Regions from separate parts of the Homo sapiens genome. Here all the other regions are linked to region 5. The links come from fine-mapping of genetic effects on gene expression. A gene starts in region 5. Each other region holds a variant in brackets. All regions are shown on one strand. Distances are between the middles of the regions.

The links.
Region 1: its variant is fine-mapped to the expression of BCR in whole blood (INTERVAL, PIP above 0.99).
Region 2: its variant is fine-mapped to the expression of BCR in adrenal gland (GTEx, PIP 0.93).
Region 3: its variant is fine-mapped to the expression of BCR in unexposed skin (GTEx, PIP 0.97).
Region 4: its variant is fine-mapped to the expression of BCR in putamen (GTEx, PIP 0.99). The same link has a PIP of 0.9 or more in caudate and cerebellum.

The regions. Positions count from the first base shown.
Region 1 is chr22:23,300,614-23,304,613 of GRCh38, reverse strand. The region is part of intron 16 of BCR (BCR activator of RhoGEF and GTPase); the gene reads right to left. Among named protein-coding and RNA genes, the nearest start is that of LINC02556, 24 kb to the left of the region's middle. The variant G/A (reference allele first, on the strand shown) is at 2,170.
Region 2 is chr22:23,073,737-23,077,736 of GRCh38, reverse strand. The region is part of intron 4 of RSPH14 (radial spoke head 14 homolog); the gene reads left to right. The region is part of intron 1 of GNAZ (G protein subunit alpha z); the gene reads right to left. Among named protein-coding and RNA genes, the nearest start is that of GNAZ, 5.2 kb to the right of the region's middle. RefSeq lists an enhancer at 1-387. The variant T/C (reference allele first, on the strand shown) is at 2,246.
Region 3 is chr22:23,314,012-23,318,657 of GRCh38, reverse strand. It overlaps BCR (BCR activator of RhoGEF and GTPase), which reads right to left. Exons shown (of 23, transcript NM_004327.4): 21 at 4,585-4,646; 22 at 3,944-4,106; 23 at 621-3,225. The coding sequence ends at 3,136. It also overlaps the pseudogene POM121L11P. Among named protein-coding and RNA genes, the nearest start is that of LINC02556, 10 kb to the left of the region's middle. RefSeq lists a silencer at 2,872-2,991 and enhancers at 2,742-3,036, 4,173-4,646. The variant C/T (reference allele first, on the strand shown) is at 2,865.
Region 4 is chr22:23,319,501-23,325,879 of GRCh38, reverse strand. It overlaps the pseudogene RPS10P30. Among named protein-coding and RNA genes, the nearest start is that of LINC02556, 3.9 kb to the left of the region's middle. The variant C/G (reference allele first, on the strand shown) is at 4,295.
Region 5 is chr22:23,176,165-23,182,238 of GRCh38, reverse strand. It overlaps BCR (BCR activator of RhoGEF and GTPase), which reads right to left and starts at 1,730. Exons shown (of 23, transcript NM_004327.4): 1 at 1-1,730. The coding sequence starts at 1,278. It also overlaps a transcript of RSPH14 not described here and the pseudogene BCRP8. RefSeq lists silencers at 1,200-1,279, 1,300-1,569, 1,640-1,879, 5,284-5,383 and enhancers at 2,000-2,810, 5,771-5,870.

The DNA of each region.
Region 1 (4,000 bases), 120 kb before region 5:
GCCCAGCAATCTTACTAGGTGTTTACTCAGTGAATGAAAACATACGTCCATATAGAGACTGGTACCAAGGACATGTTCGTGGCTGCATCAACCTTAACAGCCCAAACTAGAAATGATCCAAGTGTCTGTCAAATAGTAAATGCAGAAATAAAAACATGTTATATGTATGCAATGGAAAATTATTATCATAAAAAGGAACCAAACAATGCTACCACATGAATAAACCTCAAAAACATAATGGTAAGTGGAGGAAATCAGTCAAAAAAGCCCACTCTAGTATGATTCCACGTTTATGAAATGTGAAGAATGGGCAAATCTCTAAAGACAAAAAGCAGATCGGCTTGGGTCTGGGAGTGGCTATAACTGGGAACAGGGGCTGGGCACGGTGGTTCACACCTGTAATCTCAGCACTTTGGGAGGCCAAGGCAGGAGGATCACTTGAGCCTAGGAATTTGAGACCAGCTTGGGCAGCAAAACAAGACCTTGTCTCAAAAAAAAAAAAAAAAAAAAAAAATAGCCTGGCATGGTGGCGCATGCCTGTGGTCCCAGCTACTTGAGAGGCTAAGGTAGGAAGAGCACTTGAGCCTGGGACATCAAGGTTGTGCTGAGTGTGGTTGCACCACTGTACTCCAACCTGGGCAACAGAGCAAGACCCTGTCTTAAAAAAAAAAAAAAAAAAAAAGGCAACAAGGAAATTGGGGTGATAGAAATATTCTAAAACTGGATTGTTGGTAAAAGTTGTACAGCTCTGTAAATTTACTATAAAATCATTCGGTTATAAAAATGGATGCATTTCATGGTACAAAAGTTAAAAATAAAGGGTCCAAAAGTGGCTCTCAATAGAGCAAGGAGGACCTGTATCACTATCCATGTTGATGGCGGTGTGCTTCAAGAAGAATCCCGTGGAATCTGTGTAAGAATTTGCTCATGTGATCTTACATTTTCATGATGTTTACATCTTCATATCTTCCCCAAATATTGGTTCAAAACAAACATCACTCATTTTGTGTTCCTGCTGCAAGAGACCCCCTGGGGCCTGCCCCTCTCCAAGTCTGTTTAAGAGGCTACATACATAAGTTTCTCTCCTATTGGTGCCTCTGCCACATGGACCATGCATGTCTCATTCATCTCGGAATGCCCCCCAGGCACATCAGAGACCCCCCTGAATGGGTGAATGGCTGTGTGGACAAGACCTACGTGGCCCTCAGATAATCCTTGAAATACAAATGAGGATTCTTGGTGCCTTCATGACGGTATCCGCCTTACCTGACCATACCTCCTCCGACTCCCATCACGTCCCCTGTGACGTGATCTTTATTTTGGCTTATGTTTGTCTCTGCTGCTGGAAAGTAAACGTGGAGGACAGGGCTTTGTCCAGTTCATTCTCTGTGGTATCTCCAGTACCCAGACAGAGACATAAAACATACCTCTATAAGTTATGTAATAATACATTGTTTAATGGATCTAGAGTTTATATATATATAGTAAAATACATATTGGCACAAAGCAAGTACTGTTACATGCACTAGAAATTGCTGAGCCAGGCACTTGCCCTCTCACAGGTGAATTAAATTGGGGTGGGGGGGGCCATGCAGCCTTGACGGTTGAGTGACTTATGCTCTCACGGGTGGGGGGTCAGCGTTTGCTGCTGTTCTCATCCTTATCTGTCGTTTGTGAGGAGGCGATGGAGCAGGCACTATCTGGCTCCAGCCCCTGGTCCCTGTGTCAGTGGGAGTGATGGGTGGGAACCATGGCTAGACAGGAAGGAATCTGATTGCTGTGTGAAGGGCATTCATGACTCACGCCAAGTAGGTGGCGGCTGCCCTGGTCCCTGGAGGTCCAGGCTCCCAGCTGGGGGGCTTGTTTGTGGGATCCCAGGAGGAAGTAAGTCGGAGGAGTGGTGGTGACTATGCCATTGGCGCTCTGCGACACCAGCCTGGCCTCTTTCTCCCCCGTGGACACTGTTTTCTGCACAGGGATACCTGAGAGAGGATGTGCATGACTCCGGAGCCCAGCCTTTTTGAATCTGGGCTTTTCCCAGTGACACCAGGAGCCTTCTGTGCTGTACCGTGTGGGAGGCGCTTGGCTCTCTGCAGCCAGCTACAGGGGCCTACAGCCCCCACACTGCTTATGCACCTCGACTCAGAAGTTGCGTAGAGAGACCCTCCC[G/A]TGAGGTGAGGCAGTTGCAGCAGGTAGAGAAGCCGCAGCATCCCGGGAGTGTCCAGATCCAACCATGAGGGCAGAGGTCCCTGGCAGGCCCCAAGGGCAGGGGTCTGGGATGGAAAGGAGTCCTCAGCAAAGCTGCTCATGTGCCTGTCTGTGGGCAGCAGGAGTCGGGATCTTCTGGGCTGGGGGCTTGGCCCGGTCTGGTTTTTTGCTCCCCTTAATGGTGCTGATGAGCTGGGTTTAGGAACCACTTGCCCGAGTCTCAGATTTTGGCTCCTGCTCTTCAAATGCCTGTCCTGGATGACTTGCCAGGTCCCCACCTCCCTTCTTGCACGATAGAGGCTCCATGAGGGTGGGGGTGGCGGTGGGGGGGCTCTAGAAATTGGGATGGGTGACCTGCTTTGTTCAGAGCCACAAGCCAGAAAGGCAAGGGGATACACAGTACAGCAGGGACAAAGCTGTGGTGGTGCCCACAGTCCAGAAAAGAGCCACTGACAGCACAAATTGAAGTCCTTGTGTGTGGGCAGGTGCAAGAGGACCCAAGTCGGGTGTCCCTTCCAAGCCAGCCCCGAGCCTGAATGAGCCATTTGAGTGAGCGAGGCCATCCTGGTCCATCCTCAGACACCAGGAACCCGCTGTGCCACCCTAGTCATGGAAGGCTTCCTGTGTGCCATGCCTGGCGGGGGGGTCCCCAAGAACAAGAAGACCCCTCTCCCCAGCCTTCATGGTCTAGATCAGAGAAGCTGGAAAGGAAGGATGTGGCAAATGTGCCAAGAGCCAGGGCAGGCTTTGGCCCAGATTGACTGGTGGCTCAGATGGCACGGTTACTTGGGAAGTGAGGTCACGGGACAGAGAAGCCTTCACAGAGCAGGGGACATTGAATCTGTATCTTCAGGGAGGGATTTTTCAAGGTGAAGGCATCAACATCCATCCAAGATTCATGGGACGGGGTATGGGACACATTGCTGGAGGGCTAGTCTGCAGCCTAGCCGAGTGCAGCGCAACAGGGACGGGGGCCCTGAGACACAGTCCCAGTGCTCCTGCACATCCTGGGCCAGAGAGGGAGTCACCACAGTTGGCAGAGCTGGGGAAATTGGAGCCTTGCTGCCATTAGGAATTTCTTCAGGTTTTTTCTGTCTTTTTTGAGATAGTCTCGCTCTGTCCCCCAGGCTGGAGTGCAGTGGCACGACCCTGGCTCACTGAAATCCCTGCCTCCCTGGTTCAAGCAATTCTCCTACCTTGGCTTCCCGAGTAGCTGGGACTACAGGCATGCGCCATCGCGCCTGGCTAATTTTTTTGTGTTTTTAGTAGAGACGGGGTTTCACCATGTTGGTCAGGCCGGTCTTGAACTCCTGATGTCAAATGATCCGCCCTCCTCAGCCTCACAAAGTGCTAGGATGACAGGTGCATCTCTCTTCATCTGCAAATTTTCTAGGTTGCTAAATCATGTTAGCCCTGTCTATTCTCCTTAGAGGGCAACATTCTATCAAGTCATAGACTTTTGTCTTCTCCCATTTCTCCTGCTCTATTTATGTGTCTTGCTGGGCTCACAACTCATGTTCCAGTGGGGGCATCAGAGTTCATTTTTGTTGTTGCCAATGTTTTATGTGAGCCTCGGGGATGAGATTTGGACTGTGAGCCTCTGCTTCATTTGAAGCTGGTGCTCTGGCTGGCTGGCTGGAGTTTCCCAGACTTCTCTGCCAGCCTGGGTTATGTGGGCACCTGACCAGGTACAAGCCAGCAGGTCTGACTGGGGCCCTCCTGGTGGCACCCTGGCAGCTGCTCTCAAGTCCCCACCACGCAGTGAGGTCCACCCATTTTCGGGCGGTCTCCC
Region 2 (4,000 bases), 100 kb after region 5:
GCTTTGCCTCTGGGGAAGCCTGATTAGCTGCTCCATAGCCAAGGTCAGACAGGACCACCGGGCCCCACAAACACAGAGCCTGGTACTTTACATGCCTCAGCCCTCCTTAGTCACCTTGCCCCCTCCTCCCTTGCTGACCCCACTCCTGCAACACCTGGAGCTGAAACCACACGGTTTAGCACCTTGTTTCCGTGGCCATCCAGCCTCCCAATTCCAAGAAGGCTTCTAGGGGCTCCTTGCTGGAACAGAGATCAACATCAGGTGTACATCCAAGAGGAGGCTCCCGGCCTTGTAGAGTGGTTGAGTCTCTACCACTCATTCACTTATTCATTCTTCAGTGTACAGAAAGAGGCTGCCATGAACGAAGCATGGGGTTGGACCCTGAGGTCACTACAGGGAGTGAGGCATCAAATGAGAGAAGAGACAGTCAGCAAGCAATGACCTGAGCTGCTCATGGGACTCAGGAAGACGGAGGCCAGTCCTTCCCAATAAGGGGTTAGCATCAGTGTCACTAAGGAAGGGGCATGTAAGGAGAGATAGGGTGGGTTAAAGCTGCTAGATAGGAGGGGGTACAGTGGTGAGGTTCACCAGTCACTGGCAAGCTCATCTAAATCCTGCCTCCCGTGCCCGCTGCAGACATCACTAATCGACCATGACTCTTTCCCTCTGGGCTGCAGCACAGCCTTAGAATCCTCTTCAGCACAGCATGCTTTGGACGGTCACTCCAGAGTTGAGATAAGGAAGGAAACTATCTGTACACTTGACCCAGCCCAGAGCTTCCAACTCAAAGGCAAGGAAGGCCCAGAGAGTGGAAAGCATTCGCAGGGTCACCATCACAGGCAGAGCTGGACTTCTACCCAGGCCTGGTGCCTTCCCCTGCCCTGAGCTCCTCTACTGGCCTGAGAGGCCACTCCTTGATCTTGGGGCACAGGGGCCACCTGGAAAGGCCACTCTACCATCATCATGTTCCTTTACTACCTTCAGGGTCTTGGCTCATCCCCTTAGGACAGTTTTCCATAGACATGCCTCTGAAGGTCATCACTCTGTGAATCCCCGTGTCTGACAAAGGCCCCACTGAGTCACATTGCATCACTGAGTGGCCCGGCGTCAGCCCGAGGCATCTGTCCACCTGCCTCTGGCTTGAGAGTAACCCACAGTTGGGCCTGACGGGGCCCAGCTGGTAGCATCCACCTGAGGGTGGTTTGTGTTTGGTGGCCAAACCTGAGGCCCAGAGACACATCTCTGGGGACCCAAAGGTACAACCTCTTAGGAGCAGAGGGTTGAGCTGGAGCAGGGGTTCTGCAGCGCACGAGCACACAGCTCAGCCCTAGGGCAAAAGGGGCTGGACAGGGCCACTGAGGCATGACTGTCTGCGAATATTCAGTCCCTCCACAGCGACTCCCTGGGTGGCGATTCTCAATGGTGACTCCGCAACGTCCCTGCCCTCATGGAGCTTACACAAACACATACGATGAATGAATCAAATAGGGAGCAGGTCACGCTGTGGCGAGTGCTAAGGGGAAAAAAATAGCAGCAGGAAAGGGCATAGGAAACATGGTCAGGAACATGGCGCTGTTCTACATAGAGGCCCCACCAGCCCTGTCTGGAGCAGGGCCACAGCCTAAGAGCCAGCCCTCACTGCCATGCCAGCCTCCAGCACAGCCTCCTCCTCAGCCACCCTTCCTATGACCAACCAGGGTGAGAGGGACCATGCTGCCCAGATGCGGGGCTGCCCAGACCTACTAAGGCACTGGGCACATGAGGTCCACTCTCCACACCTCAGAGGACCTTGGCCTCCATGACTCACAGGGGCAGACCTCACAAAGGAGCAGACCTCACAGGGGCAGACCTCACAAAGGACCTTGGCCTCCGTGACTCACAGGGGCAGACCTCACAAAGGGACCTCTGTCCTGGCAGCTCTCCATCCCAGGGGCCAAGGGTCTCCTGAAAGGTTTGCTCTAACCACAACCACGGTCCCCCATGGCCATGAGAGGCCTGGCTGAGCCCTCGGGGACGGGGTGTGTTTCTGGTTGGAGGCTGCTAGAAGGAACACCCCCGGGCTTGACACTATGTGTAAGGCCCCTCCCTGCACTGTGGCTTTTAACAGTCTCGCTTCTTAGCACTTTTTGATGGATTCTCCAGGGACGTCTCTAAAAGAGAGTTATACCTTAATTTAGAAGCAAATAACTCAAAACTCTGTGATGTGGCAGCTTCCTTTGGAAAAGAGATGAACGCAAAGAAGCCA[T/C]TGCTGTGTGAAGCTGTGGCCATGTAGGTCCAGGGCCTGCTGATGGGACCATCTAAACCTCAACCTCAAGATGTGCCTCCTGCTGCCTCTTGCCCAAGGGTCCACAGACCAAGGGGCAAGAAGCAAGACATTTAGTGAAGAATTGCAGCAGGCAATTGCCTGCTGCAGTTTTCACTTTGGGTTCCCTGGGCCATGGTGCCAAGGTGAAGCTCACAGGCTGGGTGTGACTGACTCCAGCGGCCCTGAAAGTCCAACGCAACCCACCCGCCCACTCAGGGAAGGGAGGAGAAATGCTGTGGGGACTGGGCAGCAGGCAGGTTGCGGGCCCACCCTCCAGGCCTTCCTTCTCCACAGGGGCCACTACATCCCCAATATTATCCTTGAGGTCCCTGTGACCAGCCAGCTTCCTGGGCACTCACTTGGGCATCCATACAGTTTTAATGCTCTGCTGTTGCTGTTCTGGAATGCATAATTTTAGTTTTACTTTTGTAGAGACAGGCTCTTACATGTTGCTCAGGCTGGTCTCAAACTCCTGACTTCAAGTGATCCTCCTACCTCAGTCTCCCATAGTATAGGATTACAGGTGTGCGCCATCATGTCAGGCCCTTAATAATTTTCAAATGGGGGCCCCCAAAATCATGTGGCCAGCTGTGCCTGCATTGCTCAGTCCCTGGGCATGCCCTGCCTGCTTGACACAGGGGACCTGCTCTCTGGGACCCGCTCTTCTCCAGCCTCCCGAGGCGCCACTGTGACTGTGCTTCCACCTCACTTGCCCGTCAATCCTCAATCTCTCTTTCTCGATGCTTCTCAACTCATCCTCCCCACAGTGGAGGCCCAGGAGCCCAGCTCAGCCTCTTCTGATCCTACCTACCCTTGATCCCTAAGTGACCTCACGTGGTCCCCGGCCTGCCACACACCTCAGTGCCAGGGGCTCCAGGTTGCCACCTCCAGCCTTGCTCTCCCTCTGGCCACATGTGCCCATCAATGGCTCTCCAGGTCTCAGACCCACCTCCTAATTCCCCACCTCTCCAGAATGGGTTTTTCTGTATCTTGCTTCTCAGCCAATACCAGCTCCATCTTTCTACTGGTTCAGACCAAAACTGCAGCTGTCCTTTAAAAGCTGCAGCTTTAAAAAAACAAATCTCCCACCTGCATTTCTCAGGGCCTCCAGAGCTCCCACCCCTGGGTCAGCAGCCTCTCTGCCTGGGATGTTGCAGTAGCCCCTCATGGCCCCCAGCCTTACCCCACCCTAGCCTATTTTCCCACCTCAGCAGAGAGATCTTTTCAAAGTGTAGATTAGCTCCTCCTGGGAGGGCAGCTCCAGTCTCTTCTCTGCTCCAACCCTGCCAAGGTCTTCCTGCCTCATTGGGGCCCACTGAGTCCTGCAGGACCTGGCCCTGACACCCCACCCACACTCCTGCACCAGGTTCCAGCCACTCTGGTGGGGCCTCCAGGGGCCAGGGAGTGTCTGCTCAGCGCCTTTGCACCTGCTGTCTCTCCCCTGCTCAGCCACACCACTCACCCAGCACTTCTGCATGGCACTGTGTCAGTCCCCCACCCCCATCTCGTGTCCCCCACCTTCTGCTTTAGTGTTCTCCACAGTGCAGCACTTAGTAACATGTGTTACTGTCAACCCCTGCCCGTCTGGTGTGAGCACTGTGAGTGGATGCTACGTCCCTGCTGTACCCCTGCACCTGGCACAGTGCCTGGCATGCAGCAGGCGCTGGTAAATGTTAGCTGAACAAATGAATGGAT
Region 3 (4,646 bases), 140 kb before region 5:
CTCCAGCCCAGGGCAGCTCCCCTGTAAGCTGGGTGAGCTACTGAAGCCAAGGCGGGAGGCAGCTGACAACACCCACGGCCCATGCGGAGGTGGTGGAAAGGCTGGACTCAGCAGCAACACCAAATCCCGGACCAGGCAGAAACCACCCAAGACTGAGGGGCTCGTGCCAGAGCGGTGGCCACAGGTAAGAACCCGGGCCCAGGGTGGCAGGAATCCTCCATGTCCCAGGGCTTAGCATAGCAAAGGAAGACCAGCCGGGTCACCCTGGTGGCCATCTGTCCCTGTCCCACCTGCAGAGTCAGAACAGCCTCTCCCCAGTGGGGATCATCTCTCTCTGCCAAAGCAACAGCGGTCCCTGCCCCAACCAGACTACCCCACTCAGTGGGGTTACGGATGCTGCTCCAGCATCCTAACACTGCCCAGCTGGTGCCTGCCTGTGCTCACCCACACCCCCCAGGCCGGCCTTCCCTGCAGCCTGGGCTTGGCCACCTTGGCCTGATTGAGCACTGAGGCCTCCTGGGCACCCAGCCCTATCACTGCACCTGCTGCTTCCAGCCCCACCCCACCGGCTCAGGGGTTCTTCCCAGCGGCGCTGATCATGAAGTCAACATGCACGCAAGTCGTCTCAGGAAACTTTTTAATGAAAGTGTCGGCCACGGTGGTGTGTAGGTGGCTGAGCTCAGATTGCAGCTGCTAAGACACCAGCCACTTACCAAGAGAAAGCCAGGCTGCTTCAAACCCAGGGCCCAAGGCAAAAAAGCATCACTTCCGGCCGGGGAGTCTGGAAGCCACGCCTTGTGGGAGGTCACACTGGCATCTAGGCCTTCGCCTGCATTGCAGAAGGAGAGCCAGGTCCCCCTCCTGGAGAACGCTGCGTTCCCCAGCCCCACACCGGCTTTGCCACCACACAGGCTGTTGAGGCAGGAGGTGGGTAAGACGTAGCTGTAGACCCAAAGCAACCACCAGCCCTGGGACCCTGCGGGAGAGGAGCACTTTTAGAACATGGAAAAGTGTGGTCATCCCATCATTAGACAGCACACATCCTACATAAATAAAAAGTCGTATGGGGAAGGAGGTTGGGGAGGGAATAAAAAATTGGCACAGACATTGATAGACTGGTTTCCAGTTTCAAGGTAACAGATGCACATCATGAGACCAGAGGAGGCAGAGACAAGGCTGGATTTGGCTTTTCTAAGCAACACGTGTTCCTGCGCAGGGCTGAATGGTCGCTGAGACAGAGATGGAAGCCAGGACAAGGGAGCCCACCGGGCCCAGATAGGTACAGAGAGCAGAGGCTCCTGTTCTGTCCTCGCCACCCACGACGGTGACACTGCTTGTAAATGGTGGCTGTGCTCTCCCAGCAAGAAAAAAGCACAACTAAATCCACACTGCACACAGACGCAGACAGAAAGCCTTCAAGTGGCTGTTTTCTGCTCCCTGCCTTGCCAGGTCCACAAGCAGAGAGGAGTGTCAGGCGCATGGCCCCACTGTCAGGCTCCCTAGTGAGCTGCGGGTTCAGCAGGAGCTGCCCACTGACACACAGGGGACACCCACTCCTCCCACCTTGGGAGCGGGTGCCAGACAGAGCCGCACTGGGTGCTGGTGTCATCCAGGGACCCCACACACTTCCTTAAATGTGATCCTGCTTCCCTCTGGGCAGCTGCATCCTCTCCTCCTGCAGGACCGTGTGGAAACTTGGCTCTCAGTTTGCTCTCCCTTCTCTCCTCTGCCTGCCCCAAGCCCCTCTTTCTAAAAAAGTGATGGAATATTCATGGGGTTATTTCTTGAAAATACTTGGCGGTCTCCATGCTTCTGTTTTCTTTGAGCCAGGTGGTCAGGAGGGTTTACAAAGAATGCCTGGGCTCCCCCGCAGGTGTCGGCAGATGGGGTAGCGAATGGTCCTGTGCCTCCACCTGCTCCGGGAGGGAGTCTCCCGTCTCTAGGCCTGGCCCCTTCCTAACCCTCCACGTATCCTGTTCTCCAGAGACTTCAGAACCCACTCCTGAGAACAGCGGAGCCAGGCGCTTAGAGGAAGACCAAATGCTGCCAGGACACGGATTGTCCAGGGATTACATTCCAGCATCTTATTAGGTATCTGGATCTGTTCGGAAAAAAATTAGAAACTATGTATAAAACTTACAAATATTCAAGTATCAAAAGGTTATTTAGGATGAAAGTTTTAAAACAAGTCATCAGCAAGCTGCTGCCACCAAGTGGAGACTTATACAAAAGTTGAGCGAGTCCACTGAGCTGAGAGGACAGAAATGAAGTCACCTGTGCTGGGGCAGGGGCAGGGACACTGGGGGCAGGGAGTGTGTGGGCAGAGAAGCCAGAGAAGTCCAGGCCTGTGGAAGCCAAACAGGAGAGCGTGGGCCGGAAGGGCGGTCAGGATCGGGGGACGAGGTCGCTCTCCCTGGAGAACGAACCCTAAAGTGCGTAGCCTGGGGTTCCCTCCCTGGGGGTCCTGTCCCCTGACATTTCACAGGCCTTCTGAGCTGCCTTCCAAGGAGGACTAACATGGCAACAAAAGACCCATTTCTGCACAAAAATCCTTCTGGAAAGAAAAAGAAAGCCAAGAATGGAGTCAAAACGCTACCCAGTGCTGACTAAGCCTCTCAAACCCTGTTAGAAGTGGAGTGTGGTTTCTAAGTCAGGGAAATGGAAGAGGCCCCACCCACACAGGGACAGGGCCACGGCCCCCACAGGATGAAGCAGCAGCGTTTATTCAAGATACAACAGTGAGGGAATCCAGTCACGTTCCCTTCTCCCCAGAGAGGGCGCATCTTGACAAGTGATCCAGTAGAAATCTTTTAGACTCTAAGTTAAGTTCATAAAAACCACTCCCTTCACCCTGTCTCCCAGGG[C/T]CAGGCCTGGACTCCGAGATGAACTGGCTTGGGGCGCCCTCAGGTGGCCACATAAAAAACCACAGTCTGAGGCCAGCCTGGGGCTCCCAGACCTGGGCGGGATCTTTCCAGGCCACCTGTCCTTCGGCTTTGGGTCGCTGTCTCTTGGCAGATGGCCCAACACTTGGGGGTGGCCCAAGGACACCTCAGGAAGGTTCCCGCTCTACGGATGGCCCGATTAGCCAGAGGTTTCCAGGCCATCTGTCCGCCTCCAGGAGATGGACTGGGACCTTTAGACTTCGGTGGAGAACAGGATGCTCTGTCTCTTGCTGTCCGGGGCAGGGATGGCCTCCAGCTGCAGGAAGTACAGCAGCACCTGGACCTGCCCGGGCAGAGTAGGGAAGAGAAGAGTGGCTCAGAGCGGGGCTCACAGCTGCTGGTGGGAGGTCTTTGGGGCCCAAGCCTCCAAGTCCATCTCAGGTGCTGGGGACCCCTGCTGGTGTCATGAACCCCTTACAGTGAGATGGGGGTGGGGTGGGGTCCTGACAAGGCATGACTTGTTGGGTGGGGGGTGGTTATTTATTTTAGAGATGCACAGGGCCTTGCTCTGTCCCCCAGGCTGGAGTACAGTGGCTCCATCATGGATCACTGCAGCCTCTAACTCCTGGGCTCAAGAAATCCTCCTGTGTCAGCCTCCCAGATACCTAGGATTACAGATGTGTGCCACAATGCCTGGCTAATTTTTCTTTTTATTTTTTCTAGAGATGGGGTTTGCCACATTGCCCAGACTGGTTTCAAACACCTGGGATTGGTTATCCTGCCTTGGCCTCCCAAAGTGCTGGGATTACAGGCATGAGCCACCACACCCGAACACTTGAGGTAGTTTTAAGCTTCCAGCAAAGTGCACTAGCAGGACCAGGAGGTGGCCTGGGCCCCCACTATCACTCCCATCCATGCAGACCTAGGCAAGTCCCTCTCTGTGAATGTTGGCCACACCACATACAATGCAAGTAAGAAGATGGGCAGGACTGGGGGTGGGGCAGGCAGAGGCCACCTCTGTCAGGTCAGGGTTGCATGGGCTGGAGCCTGTCTTCCCATACCTGGGACATGACCTCCAAGGACCAGCTGTCAGTCATGGTGATAGGCTGGCTGGGGTTGGCAGGGAGCTTGCTCTCCTTCTCGGAGGGCCGGAGCAGCGTGGGGCCAAAGACCGTGGCGAGGTTGTGCAGGGACATCTTATTGACTGCCTCCTTCTCTGCCACCCTGTAGAGGACCAAAGCAGCGGGTGCTGTTTCAACGCCACCCCCAGGAGAGAGGCAGAGGGGCTGGGCTGTGCTGGAGTTCTCAGGAAGGGAGTGACCTCGACCCTGGCTGTGCTGCAAGCTGACTCCAGCCCTGGTACTTCTGGGTCTCAGTGGCCCAGGACAAGGAGCCAGCTCTGGGCTGGTGGGGAGGTCTCCTACTTGATGTGACTCGGAGGGAAGAGGGGGGTCCAAGTGCACTGCTGGCCACGGCCAAAGCTCTGAGCTCTTTTTTAAGGCCACAGTGCAGAGAGAGGAGGGTGGCAAAGAAGAGAGGCTGGGGCAGGGGTGGCAGTGGCACTAGTCGCCAAAGGCAGTGAGTGACTGCAGACAAGGGTCAGGAGAAAAGGTCCTCGGTGTTGGGGGTCTAGTGGGAGCAGAGGGGCACTCTGCGGCCTGGGGACCTGGAGCCCTGGGCTGCCATGGGAGAGCTGGGCTACCTTTTCAGGTGGTCCAGAAGGAAAAGGAAGGTGAGCAGGTTGGCCTCCGGCAGGGACAGCAG
Region 4 (6,379 bases), 140 kb before region 5:
TTATTTACGGATTTTCTTTATGGAGTTACCAAATTATCCTTTGAAAATTGAGAATTCAGAAGTGGCTGAGAGCAGTCAGTCACTCTTCAGAATGTAAAAACTACTATTCTGAAGTAGATATTACATTATTAATTTCCTTTCAAGATGCTTTAAAAATGAGCCTTTTGATACACCGCAGGTTTTTAAAGAGTATGTCACAATAACTAAATCTTACTTGAAATTAACAGAAGAAGAGCACTATAAATTTTAAAGGCTTCACAGACACAGGGATCATCTGTTATGTTCACTTTGGAACAGATCATAATTGTCCCTCCTCCTCAACATACCCAAAATACGTTGTTTAAGGCTACTTTCTTAATGGTCATGTTATTTCACAGCAAAAGACTGGGGTCACAATGATATCTGAGCTGACAGAAAACCCCATGGGGGTTTTTACCTCGCAGCTAGTCTATTCAGTACTAACAATTCCAACCACCAGAAGGAATTTCCCTGCCTAGGCTTATTTTGTTGGCACAACACAAAAAAATCTCCTGGGGCCGAGTGAGGGGGTTTGTGCCTGTAATCCCAGCACTTTGGGGGTTGAGGCGGGCGGATCATCTGAGGTCGGGAGTTCCAGACCATCCTGACCAACATGGAGAAACACTGTCTCTACTAAAAATACAGAATTAGCCAGGAGTGGTGGCACATGCCTGTAATCCAGCTACCTGGGAGGCTGAGGCAGGAGAATCGCTTGAACCTGGGAGGCAGAGGTTGCGGTGAGCCGAGATCATGCCATTAGACTCCAGCCTGGGCAACAAGAGCGAAACTCTGTCTCAAAATAAAATATCTCCTGACATTTTATATCTAATAAGAAAAGATCTATTTAACAATGATCAGAATAGGAACATCTTTAATACCAGGCAAACTTAAAAGCTTTCTCAGTGGATTTCTCAGTAGACTGTGACAAATGACCTCAAAATAAACTCATATTTACTCTTAAGAAATAATTTGTATTTGAATCTTCTTAACAACAAAAGCCCCAGGAACTTTTTCCTGAACTCCCAAACAATAGCAGCAAAACGAGATTCTCGGCTCTCTTTATTTTTACAAATCACAATAAGATAACTAACCTTGTATTTGCTATTATTTACATTTACTGTATATCACCATTTACTATCACCATCATTTCATAAAAGATGCTTTATTTTAACACCAAGAAAGCAGGACTTTTTTTTTTTTTTTTTAGAAAGGATAGTCCTTTAATCGAACAAATTTAATTGTATAAAAGACTCCCAATATTGTCCTTTTTTTTTCTTATTTCTGTTCCCTTACTGAGCTGAGCAGTTTGCATAATACCACACACAAGTTAGTCATGTGATTTAAATATGTATATGATAGTAATTTTGATACTATCACTTAAGTCATTCGAAATATCAGATGCACTGTGTGTCAAGTCAGTTATAGAGAACCACTGCTTCAGAGAAATCACATCTGAGGAGGAAACACTGCAGATACACCCCCTAAAAGTTCACCTTTGAAACAGAAATTTTGATACAAACTTCACTTTAACTACAACTGTAATTGTAATTATTACAGTTATTCTCCACTCACTAGATACTGTACTTGACACTCACGTTATTTGGTTGGCTACCAACGTGCACCTGTGATAAAGCTTTCCTATGGCACAACATTCACTTTCTTACTGAAAATGTCAAGAAAACCCCTACACACCTGCAACCATTAGGAAGCATTCTCCAGCTATCAAAAAAGTCACTGAATCGGCTAAGCGACTCTGTGTGGTATACACTAAATCAAAGGGGAAAAGGTGTTTTTTTGGAGGAAAAAAATACTGGATCAGCCATTTATTCATAGAAACAATTTTACCCACAACAATACTTCTCCTTTCACTATATACCCTTCTATATTGGTTTGGTTATTGTATAACATACATGTATATTGTTATGGCTGGGGATTTTTTTTTCTTTTTTGAGACGGAGTCTCATTCTGTCGCCCAGGCTGGAGTGCAGTGGCAAGACCTCAGTTCACTGCACCCTCCGCCTCCTAAGTGATTCTCCTGCCTTGGCCTCCCGAGCCTCTGGGATCACAAGCGTGTGCCACCATGCCTGGCTAATTTTTATATTTTTTGTAGAGACCGGGTTTCACCATGTTGTTATTGAACTCCTGACCTCAGGTGATCTGCCCTTCTCGGCCTCCCAAACTACTGAGATTACAGGCGGGAGCCACTGAGCTCGACCTTGTTATGTCTGGTTTTTGTTTTGTTTTTTTGAGATGGAGTCTTGCTCTGTCACCCAGGATGGAGTACAGTGGCACGATCTTGGCTCACTGCAACCTCTGCCTCCCGGGTTCAAGCAATTCTCCTGCCTCACCCACCTCAGTAGCTGGGATTACAGGCACGCGCCAATATGCCCAGCTAATTTTTGTATTTTTAGTAGAGACAGGATTTTACCATGTCGGTCAGGCTGGTCTCAAACTCCTGACTTCAGGTGATCCACCCACCCTGGCCTCCCAAAGTGCCAGGATTACAGGCATGAGCCACCGCGCCCAGCCTAGTTTTTAATTACTAAGAAAAAATTACTATAGTCCTTTTGGTATCACCTACATTGCCAAAGCTGCAGTCCCCCTCCACTCCCGGAAGCCACCAGAAATGACTGCTGTTGTCTGCAAAGCCCACAACTCTGATTTCATCTCAAGATATGTCCTACTGGGTGACTGCAAATGTCATTCTTTAAAGGCTTGTATCTGTTACAAGCTTGGGAAATATTATCAATGGCTTAAGAGGCTCTTTTGACAAAAGAAAACACTGTTCCCTGTAACCCCAGCTAGTCAGGAGGCTGAGGCAGGAGAATCGCTTGAACCCAGGGGGCGGAGGTTGCAGTGAGACGAGATCATGGCCCTGCACTCCAGCCTGGGCGACAGAGTGAGACTCGTCTCAAAAAAAAAAAAAAAAAAAGGAAGAATGTGCCCAACCTTCATGTCATGAAGGCCATGCAGTCTTTCAAGTCCCGAGGCTACTACATGAAGGAACAGTTTGCCTGGAGTCATGTCTGCTGGTACCTTACCAATGAGGATATCCAGTATCTCCGTGATTACCTTCATCTGCCCCTGGAGATTGTGCCTGCCACCCTACGCCGCAGCCGTCCATGGACTGGCAGGCCTCAGTCTAAAGGTCTGGAGGGTGAGCGACCTGCAAGACTCAACGAGAGGGGAAGCCGACAGAGATACCTACAGAGGGAATGCTATGCCCCCTGGTGCCAACAAGAAAGCCGAGGCTGCGGCTGGGTCAGCAACCGAATTCCAGTTTAGAGGCAGATTTGGTCGTGGACGCCGTCAGCCACCTCAGTAAAATTGGAGAAGATTATTTTGCATTGAATAAACTTACAGCCAAAAAGACTTAAAAAAAAAGAAAAAAATTATATTATGTCGCAAATGAACCCGTTGCAATGATCATACAGGTTTTTTCCTTTGATAGTTTGTACTACTTTAATAGTTTTTTCTTTTATTACATCATCTTAGTTTCCTAGGAAAACCCCAACTTGGTCATGATACATGTTTAATCCATTGCTGGATTATTTGCTAATATTTTATTTAGCATTTTTGCATATATGTCCATAAGAAGTTAGTCTATACTTTTGCCTGCTTGTACTATTTATGTCTGGTTTGGTTTTAAGCTTATATTAAATTCACAATGAGTTGGGGAGAATTCCATTTGCTTCTTTTTCTGTAAGGTTATGTAGGCCGGGGTCGTGTGTGGTGGCTTATGTCTGTAATCCCAGCACTTTGGGAGGCCAAGGCGGGCGAATCACGAGGACAGGGGTCGAGACCACCCTGGCTAACACGGTGAAACCCCGTCTCTACTGAAAATACAAAAAATTAGCCAGGTGTGGTGGCGGGCGCCTGTAGTCTCAGCTACTCGGGAGGCTGAGGCAGCAGAATGGCCTGAACTCGGGAGGCGGAGCTTGCAGTGAGCCGAGATCGCGCCACTGCACTCCAGCCTGGACGACAGAGCGAGACTCCGTCTCAAAAAAAAAAAAAAAAATTATGTAGGCCGCGCACTGTGGGTCGTGCTTGTAATCCTAGCACATTGGGAGGCCGAGGCAGGTGGATTACCTGAGGTCAGGTGTCCGAGAACACCCTGGCTAACATGGTGAAACCCCGTCTCTACTAAAAATACAAAAGATTAGCCAGGCACACCTGTAATCCTAGCTACTGTGGAGGCTGAGGGAGGAGAACCGCTTGAACCTGGGAGGCGGAGTTTGCGGTGAGCAGAGATCATGCCACTGCACTCCAGTCTGGG[C/G]TACAGAGCGAGACTTCCTCTCAAAAATAAATAAATAAATAAATTATTTTAAAAAAATTCTGTAGAAGATAAAGACTTTCTGTTCTTCTTAATGTTTGCTGAACTTATCTATAAAATCATCTGGGCCAGGTGCTTTTCTTTGGTTTTGTTTTTTGTGAGATTTTTGACTGGATGGGATACAGATTTTAAAATAAACATTCAATTCCTTTAATGGTTCTAGATCTAGACAAGGTTTTCTGTTTCTTCCTACTTCGTTTTTATGAAGTTATATTTTTCTTTTGAGCCGGAGTTTCTCTGTTGTCCAGGCTAGACTGCAGTCACCCCATCTTGGCTCACTGCAACCTCCGCCTCCCAGGTTCAAGTGATTCTCCCGCCTCAGGCTCCCGAGTAGCTGGGACTACAGGCAAACGTCAAAACGCCCGGCTAATTTTTGTATTTTTAGTAGAGATGGAGTTTTGCCATATTGGTCAGGCTGGTCTCGAACTCCTGACCTCAGGTGATCGACCTGTCTTAGCCTCCCAAAGTGCTAGGATTACAGGTGTACATTTATTTATTTGAGATGGAATCTTGCTCTGTATTTATTAATTTATTTATTTGAGATGGAGTCTTGCTCCATCGCCCAGGCTAGAGTGCAGTGGTGTAATCTTGGCTCACTGCACCCTCTGCCTTCCAGGTTCAAGCGATTCTCCTGCCTCAGTGTCCCAAGTAGCTGGGATTACAGGTGCCTGCCACCACAGCTGGCTAATTTTTGTATTTTTAGTAGAGACAGTGTTTCACCATCTTGGCCAGGCTCGTCTCGGGCTCCTGACCTCATGAACCACCTGCCTCAGCCTCCCAAAGTGTTGGGATTACAGGCCTAAGGCACATGCTCGGCCGTATTTATTTATTTAATTATTTAGAGACAAAGTCTTGCTCTGTCACCCAGGCTGGAGTGCAGTGGCGCCATCTCAGCTCACTGCAGCCTCCGCCTCCGAGGTTTAAGCGATTCTCATGCCTCAGCCTCCTGAGTAACTGGGACTACAGGTACTCACCACCACGCAGGGATATTTTTTTCTGTTTTTTTGTAGAGACACGGTTTCACCATGTTGGCCAGGCTGGTCTCGAACTCCTGACCTTAGGTGATCTGACAGCCTCGTCCTCTCAAAGTACTGGGATTACAGGCATGAGCCACTGCGCCCGGCCTCTCACTACGTTTAAGTGATGCCATGGCTCATGCCTGTAATCCTAGCACTTTGGGAGGCCAAGGCAGGTGGATCACCTGAGGTCAGGAGTTCGACACGAGCCTGGCCAACATGAGGAAACCCCGTCTCTAGTAAAAATACAAAAATTAGTCAGGCGTGGTGGTACAAGCCTGTAGGCCCAGCTACTTGGAAGGCTGAGGCAGGAGAATCACTTTAACCGGGAGGCAGAGGTTGCAGTGAGCCAATATCATTCCACTGCACTCCAGCTTGGGTGACAGAGTGAGACACCGTCTCAAAAAAAAAAGAAAAAAAGAAAGAAAAAAATGTGATGCCGGGGCATCTCAGCCTCAATACCTGCATGAGCACAGTCATGTCCAGGCCAGGGCTGCTGGTCGAGGTCTGGCCCCATCTCTTCTAGAAGAAAGGGAGTAAGCTTGCAGGGAGGCTGGGGGACAAGATCCCAGGATCTCAGCCTCCGCTCATGGATCAGCTCTGAGACCCTGACTGAGCTGGGGGTGCTCTGTGTGCACTGGTTTCCCCAGCTGTCAAGTAAAGGGATTGGATGAGGAAGTCTTGTCAAGGTGGAATGATCTCAGATTTGGGGCAGCAGTGAATGATCCCGCTCCCTGGGCCCATGCCAGTGGCCTGGCCTCGGCTGAACACAGCCCCAACACTCTGGAATGGGGATGAGGGGGAAGTCAGCTCTTGCTCTTAGTAAGAGAGATGCAATAGGGCTCTGTGGCTGAGCTGGGTGCCTTGCCTCACACCTGTAATCCCAACCTTTGAGAGGCTGAGGCGGGAGGATTGCTTGAGGCTGGGAATTTTGAGAATAGCCTGGACAACATAGCCAGACCCCATGTCTACAAAATAATAAGAAAACACACAGCTATAGTCCAAGCTACTT
Region 5 (6,074 bases):
TGCGTCTCCATGGAAGGCGCCCTCGCCATCGTTGGGCCAGATCTGCCCGGTCTTGCGGACGCCCACGATGGTGGCCTCGGACACGACAACCGGGCAGTGCCGGTGCCGCTTATGGCACTGCGGCGTGGGGGGACTGCTGCTGTCGAAGGACTGTTGCGAGTTCTGCGAGGGAGAGCGGCTTTTGTCCCGGAACATGCGGTAGGTGGTGGGGCTTGGGGACACGCGGCTGGACTGGCCAGAGGAGAAGTCCTCCTCGCTGGAGGTGAGGTTCTCATTGGAGCTGCAGTCCGGGGTATAGCCGCCTCCGCAATCCTCAAAACTCCGGGGGGAGTAGGACCTGCGGGGCCAGGTAAGGCGCTTCTCCTGCTCAGAGGTGCTCTGGCTGCGCAGGAGCGGGCCCTTGCCCTCCCCTTCCATCATGCCCCCGACGTAGATGCTCTGGTAGGGCTGGTACTCCAGGGGCGGCCAAGGGGGCCTGCTACCGCCATTGGCGTCGATCAGGTTGTCCTTCAGGAAGCGGGGGTTCAACTCGGCGTCCTCGTAGTCGCCGTCGACGCCGCAGCTGCTCTCCGAGGAGCGTCCCCGGTAAGGGGGCCTGGATGCATCCCCCACGCTCGAGCCCGCGCCGTGCTGGGACTTTTTGCGCTCCATCTGCATGGCCTGGCTGCCCAGGGAGCTGATGCGGTCCGACACCTCTTTGTCGTTGACCTTCACCAGGCCGCGCTCGTGGTGAAACTCGACGTTCACGTAGAAGGGCTTCTCGGCGTCCGCCCCGGGCTGGCCATGGCCCTTGCGGATCCGCTCGAAGTTGGACCTGAGCGCCGCCACGCTGGCGGGGGGTCCCCGGTCGTCCCGTTCCCCCGACGCGGCTGCCCCGGGCCTGCGGGCGGTCCCGGGCCTGGCCTTACCCGGAGAACCCTCGCCGTCGGGCCGGGCCTCGGGCTCCTCGGCGGGCGGCGGGTCGGCTCCGTCGGCGGGCGCTGGCTGCGGGCGCGACGCGGACGCTCGGGGCTCGGAGGCGCCGTCGGGGGCCTGCGCCGCGCGCCGGAAGCCCCATCGCTGCCGGTCATAGCTCTTCTTTTCCTTGGCCAGCAACGTCTGCAGGTAGATCATGCGGAAGCGCTCCTGGTTCACCTCCTGCTCCAGGCGCCGAATGGAGGCCTTGCAGCGCTCCAGCTCCTGCTCGATGTCGCCCACTGAGCGCAGCTCCATGCGCGGGGGCTCTGAGTCCGGGAACTGCGCCTTCCACGCCTCCGCGAAGCCCACCGGGTCCACCATGGCGCGGCCGGCCTTACCTGCGCCGCCGGGCTGCGCGCGGGGCCCGTCTCAGCGGCGGCGCGGCGCCTCGCCAGCCCGGCCCCGGGCGCCGGGCGGCCCCCATGGCCCGCGCGGCGGCGGCGGCGGCGAACAATGCCCGCCCACTCCCTGGTGGCAGGTGAGGCGGAGCGGGGCGCTCGGCGCGCGGGGCGGGGCGCGCCGGGGGGAAGGGCGCGGGCTGCGCGCGCCGCTATTGTGTGCGGGGCTCCTCCGCACGGCGAGGCGCGGGCGCTGCTCTCCGCTCCGCCAGGCCGCCGCCAGACTCTGGCCACGGCCCGCGCGCTCCTCGCCTCTCGCTTCCGCACCGCCCCACAGCCCCGCCGCCGCCGTGCCGCCGCCGCCGCCGCCGCCTCCTCGGACGCTAAGCTCAGCCAGCCGGCTCTCGCCGCACTCCCGCCCGGCCCGCACTCTGCGCCGCAGGAAGGGGAGGGCCGGGGGGAGGTGGCCGCGGCGCGGATGACGGAGCCAGGCGGGCCTCTTAAAGGGGCCGCGCCGTGGGCACAGGGCGGGGGGGCCCCCTGGAGGCGGCTCCCCCATCGAGCCGCCACCCTCCCCCCGTCCCTGTGCCTTTTGGGAAACTGAGGCCCTAACAACAGCGAATTGGACTGTGCAACTCGCAGCCCAGGGGTCCCCCGTAAAAAAGACACCGGACTCCCTGGTCCATAAAGACCTTTCCAATACAGAGGTCTGGGCCAGTTCTGCAGTCCTGGAACAGGAACACTTGGCTCCCCTCCGGCCAGGAGGACTTCTCCGGCCAGTCCAGCCGCGTGTCCCCAAGCCCCACCACCTACCTCATGTTCCGGGACAAGAGCTGCTCTCTCTGGCAGAACTCGCAGCAGTCCTCCGACAGAAGCAACCTCCCCCCTCTGCCCCTACCACGCCGCAGTGCCATAAGCGTCACCGGCACTGCCCAGTCGTCGTGTCAGAGGCCACCATCGTGGGCATCTGCAAGACCAGGCAGATCTGGCCCAACGATGCGGAGGGCACCTTCCATGGAGACGCAGGTAAGTTCCTCACACCTCACAGCCTGGCCTCTCACCAGCCTCAGGGCTGGGCACACTAGGGACCACCCAGCAGGGCCCAACTCACAGAGAGGCCAGGACCAGGCAGGTCACCCCGCAAGGCAGGGAGGGCCAGGCTGAGTAACCAATGCCAGCACCCTTGTTTCAGCGGGCCTCTCACGTTGTGGATCTGCTGTGGGTGGCTGCCACACGGGTTTGTCACAGCAGGACCACATGATGGATGATAAATAGGGATTTCTCCCTCAGGTCACTCAATACCCACACCTGCCTTCCTGTGTGCTGAGCCATGTGTTTGTCCCCTGGCCTCTCTTGAGCTCCAGAGGTCAATGTAGTTTTTCCAGGACGACCTGACTCAGAACTTCCCTGATTAGCCTCCCTCTAAGGGGGCGGCCAACCTGCACTGAGGTTCACAGGGCTGGGTGGAAGACAGCCCAGAGCAGGGAGTGAAACAAAACCTTTGATGGTTCTCTGGGGACACAGAGATCTGAGACACAGTGGAGAGCACTCTGCAGGGACTCTGATGGGCACAAACTGAAAATACCCAAACCAGCCCGCTGGGTTGGGGGAAAAGGAAACAGGATTTGGCAAATGAATTACTGGGCTTGAGTCCTGACCACCTCTCCCTCTCTGCCTCAGTTTCCTTGAAGTGAGAAGCACATCTGCCTCCAAGTGCTGTTGTCCCTGTGTGGATGTTAGGGATTATCATGCCCTCCTCCCAATGCCAGCGTCATCTGGAGCAGATACTTTGAAGTCCAATCTAAAGGACTGAGCCCAGGCTAGTAGCCAGGCCAGCCCTGCTTGGGTTCAGGGCTTCCTGCCGACTCCTGGCTGTGTGACCTCAGCAGTGTCTCTCTCAGCCTCTCTGAGCCTCAGTTTTGTCATCTGTTCTTCATGTGCCCAATCCTGCTTCCTTTTCCCCTGACCCGGCAGGCTGGTTTGGGTATTTTAATTTTGTGCTCATCAGACTCCCTGCTCTTTGCCCTGTCTCAGATTTCCAGGCTTCCCTAGAGAACCATCAAAGATTTTGTTTCACTCCCTGCTCTGAGCTGTCCTGTCTTCCACCCAGTCCTGTGGGCCACGGTACAAAATGTTGAGAGCATCCTGCATAAAATGCCCAGATGGGGCAAACATAAAACACAACCTGATAAATGGTGTGTAGGGGTCGATTTCGTGATTGCCTGTTAATATTAGTGCCCCTGGAGAACATTCCTGCCCTGGAAAACCCATGGGCCCCAGTTTCTAGGCTGGGTGGGCGGTGCGCAGCTCACTGCTGCCCTCTGCAGGCCTTGCTAACCTCCTGCCATCCTGGTCCCTTGGACCCAGCGGACCTTCTCATCCCCTTCCCATCAGGCTGCAAATAGCCCATTTTGCATGTGAGGAAACTGAGATGCAAATGATGCCCTGGCCACTAAAGGGGCTGGAATCCCAGTAGTGCCATACTGAGCAGTGCTCTCATCCTCAGTGGCCTATTTTTTTTTTTTTTTGAGACGGAGTCTCACACTGTTGCCCAGGCTGGAGTGCAGTGGAGTGATCTCTGCTCACCGCAACCTCTGCCTCCTGGGTTCAAGTGATTCTGCTGCCTCAGCCTCCCAAGTAGCTGGAATTACAGGCGCCTGCCATCACGCCCAGCTAGTTTTTTGTATTTTTAGTAGAGACGGGGTTTCACTGTGTTGGCCAGGCTGGTCTTGAACTCCTGACCTCGTGATCTGCCCGCCTTGGCCTCCTGTAGTGCTGGAATTACAGGTGTGAGCCACTGCACCCAGCCCTCAATGGCCTCTTCTTTAAAATGGGTATGATAAAGGCAGGCACAGTGGCCCATGCCTGTAATCCTGGTGTTTTGGGAGGCCGAGGCAGGAGTATCGCTTGAGCCCAGGAGTTCAAGACCAGCCTGGGCAACATAGTGAGACTCCATCTCTACAAAAAAATTTAAAAATTAGCCTGGCATGGTGCCTCGTGCCTGTAGTTCTACCTGCTCAGGAGGCTGGGGTGGGAGGATTGCACTGAGCCTGGGAATTTGAGGCTTCAGTGAGCTAGGATCACGCCACTGCACTCCAGCCTGGGTAACAGAGCAAGACCCTGTCTCTAAGTAAACTCTGAAGCTGTTTAGTTTGAGTTTGCATGCTCTGTTCTCTTGGCATAGCAAATGGCTTTTTGTTAGGCACAAGGACACGTCCAGATAGTGGCTTTCTCCCTTGTGGGACAGCCTCTTCTGGCCCCAAGGACACTGTTCTCTCCTCAGGACTTCCCTGAAAGCACCCCTATCCTGAGCCTCTGGGCCTTTCCTGTAGAGTTTTCTTATCATCCATCCCTCCCTAGGGAGGAATGCAGCAGGGCATGGGCATGGGCATGGGGTTTAGACACACATAACACTCTGTAATCCCCCACTCAGTGTCTGTTCCAACTAGATCTAAACTCTGCAAGGTCACAGACCTGTTTGTCTTGTTCCCCTATGTCTCTCATATAGTGAGCTCAGAGTAAGTGCTCAACCAGGTCTGGTGGAATGAGGAACCAGATGTGTGCATGGCCTGGAGGGCAGATAGGTCACCGAGAGCGATGCCTGTGTATGGGGGAGGAAGTGATAAGGCATTCACAGCCCGGCTATAGCAAAGGTGTGTGTGTCCTGTGGGAGAAGGCACAGTTCGGGGAAAGGCTTGCCAGGGGAGGTGATGCCTGAGCTGGTCCTAAGGACAAGGACCAGGTAGGCAAAGGACAAGGAGGCTTCAAAGTTCTGTTTGAGGAGCAGCCAGGTTGGGAGATGAGGCTGGTGTAGGCAGTAGGAAGTGGGATCAGAGGTGAGGCAGGGCCTTGTAGGCCTGCACAAAGTTTGGGTTTTATTCTAAATGCAAGGAAAAGCTGCTCAAAGGTTCTAGACCTGCACTGTCCGATAGAACTTGCCAGTACCATGGGCATGTTCTGTAATCTGTGCTGCACAATGTGGCAGCCACGAGCTGCCCCGTGTGATTACTGAGCATCTGAAACGTGGCTGGGGCAGCTGAAGAACTGAATGTTTGGTTTCGTGTTAGTGAGTTTCAATGGCCACCGTGGCTGCTGTACTCAACCGCACAGGAAGCGGGGTGACTTGCTGGGGTCTGTTGCATGGAAGGTTGGGCGTGGGAGGTGGGAGTAGGGGGAGTGGTTGGGGATTGTGGCAATTGTTTATGAGGAAGGCATTGGTGACCCAGAATAGGGCAGAAGCAAGGTACCCCAGAGAAGGGGTTAGAATTCAGGAGCATTCTGGAAGTAAAACTCATGGGACTTGTAGATGGAGTGGGTGTGGGGAATGAGGGATGTTGGGGTGATCAGACCCAACACCAGGCCGTGGGGGCGACAAAGTCTGGCGGAGTCAAAGGAGTGAGAAAAGGCAAGAGAGAAAGTGGGACCAGGGGGCCAACGCTAGTATAGAGGCTGCAAAGGCCTCTAGCCCTAGGAGCCTATGCTATTTATTGGTGATCAAACAAAGAAACAGGTGGTGAGGATGTGGGGATTGAAAGGAAGCGGTGTATCAAGCAAATGAGCTACAGCTGTGACAGTTTAGCATTTTCTTTGAAACATATGGCTACTTGAGATAATGAGAGTGCTAGAAGGAAGGAGCCAGCAAGTCTAGCAGACATGCAAGCCCTGCCTCAGCTTCTCTCCCCACACCCAGCTTTTCCCCAACAGAGGGAGGCCAGCTCATGGGGATGACTTTGGGATGGTGACTGCAACAGGCAAGCAGAGGTGCCTGCACAGGGCTTC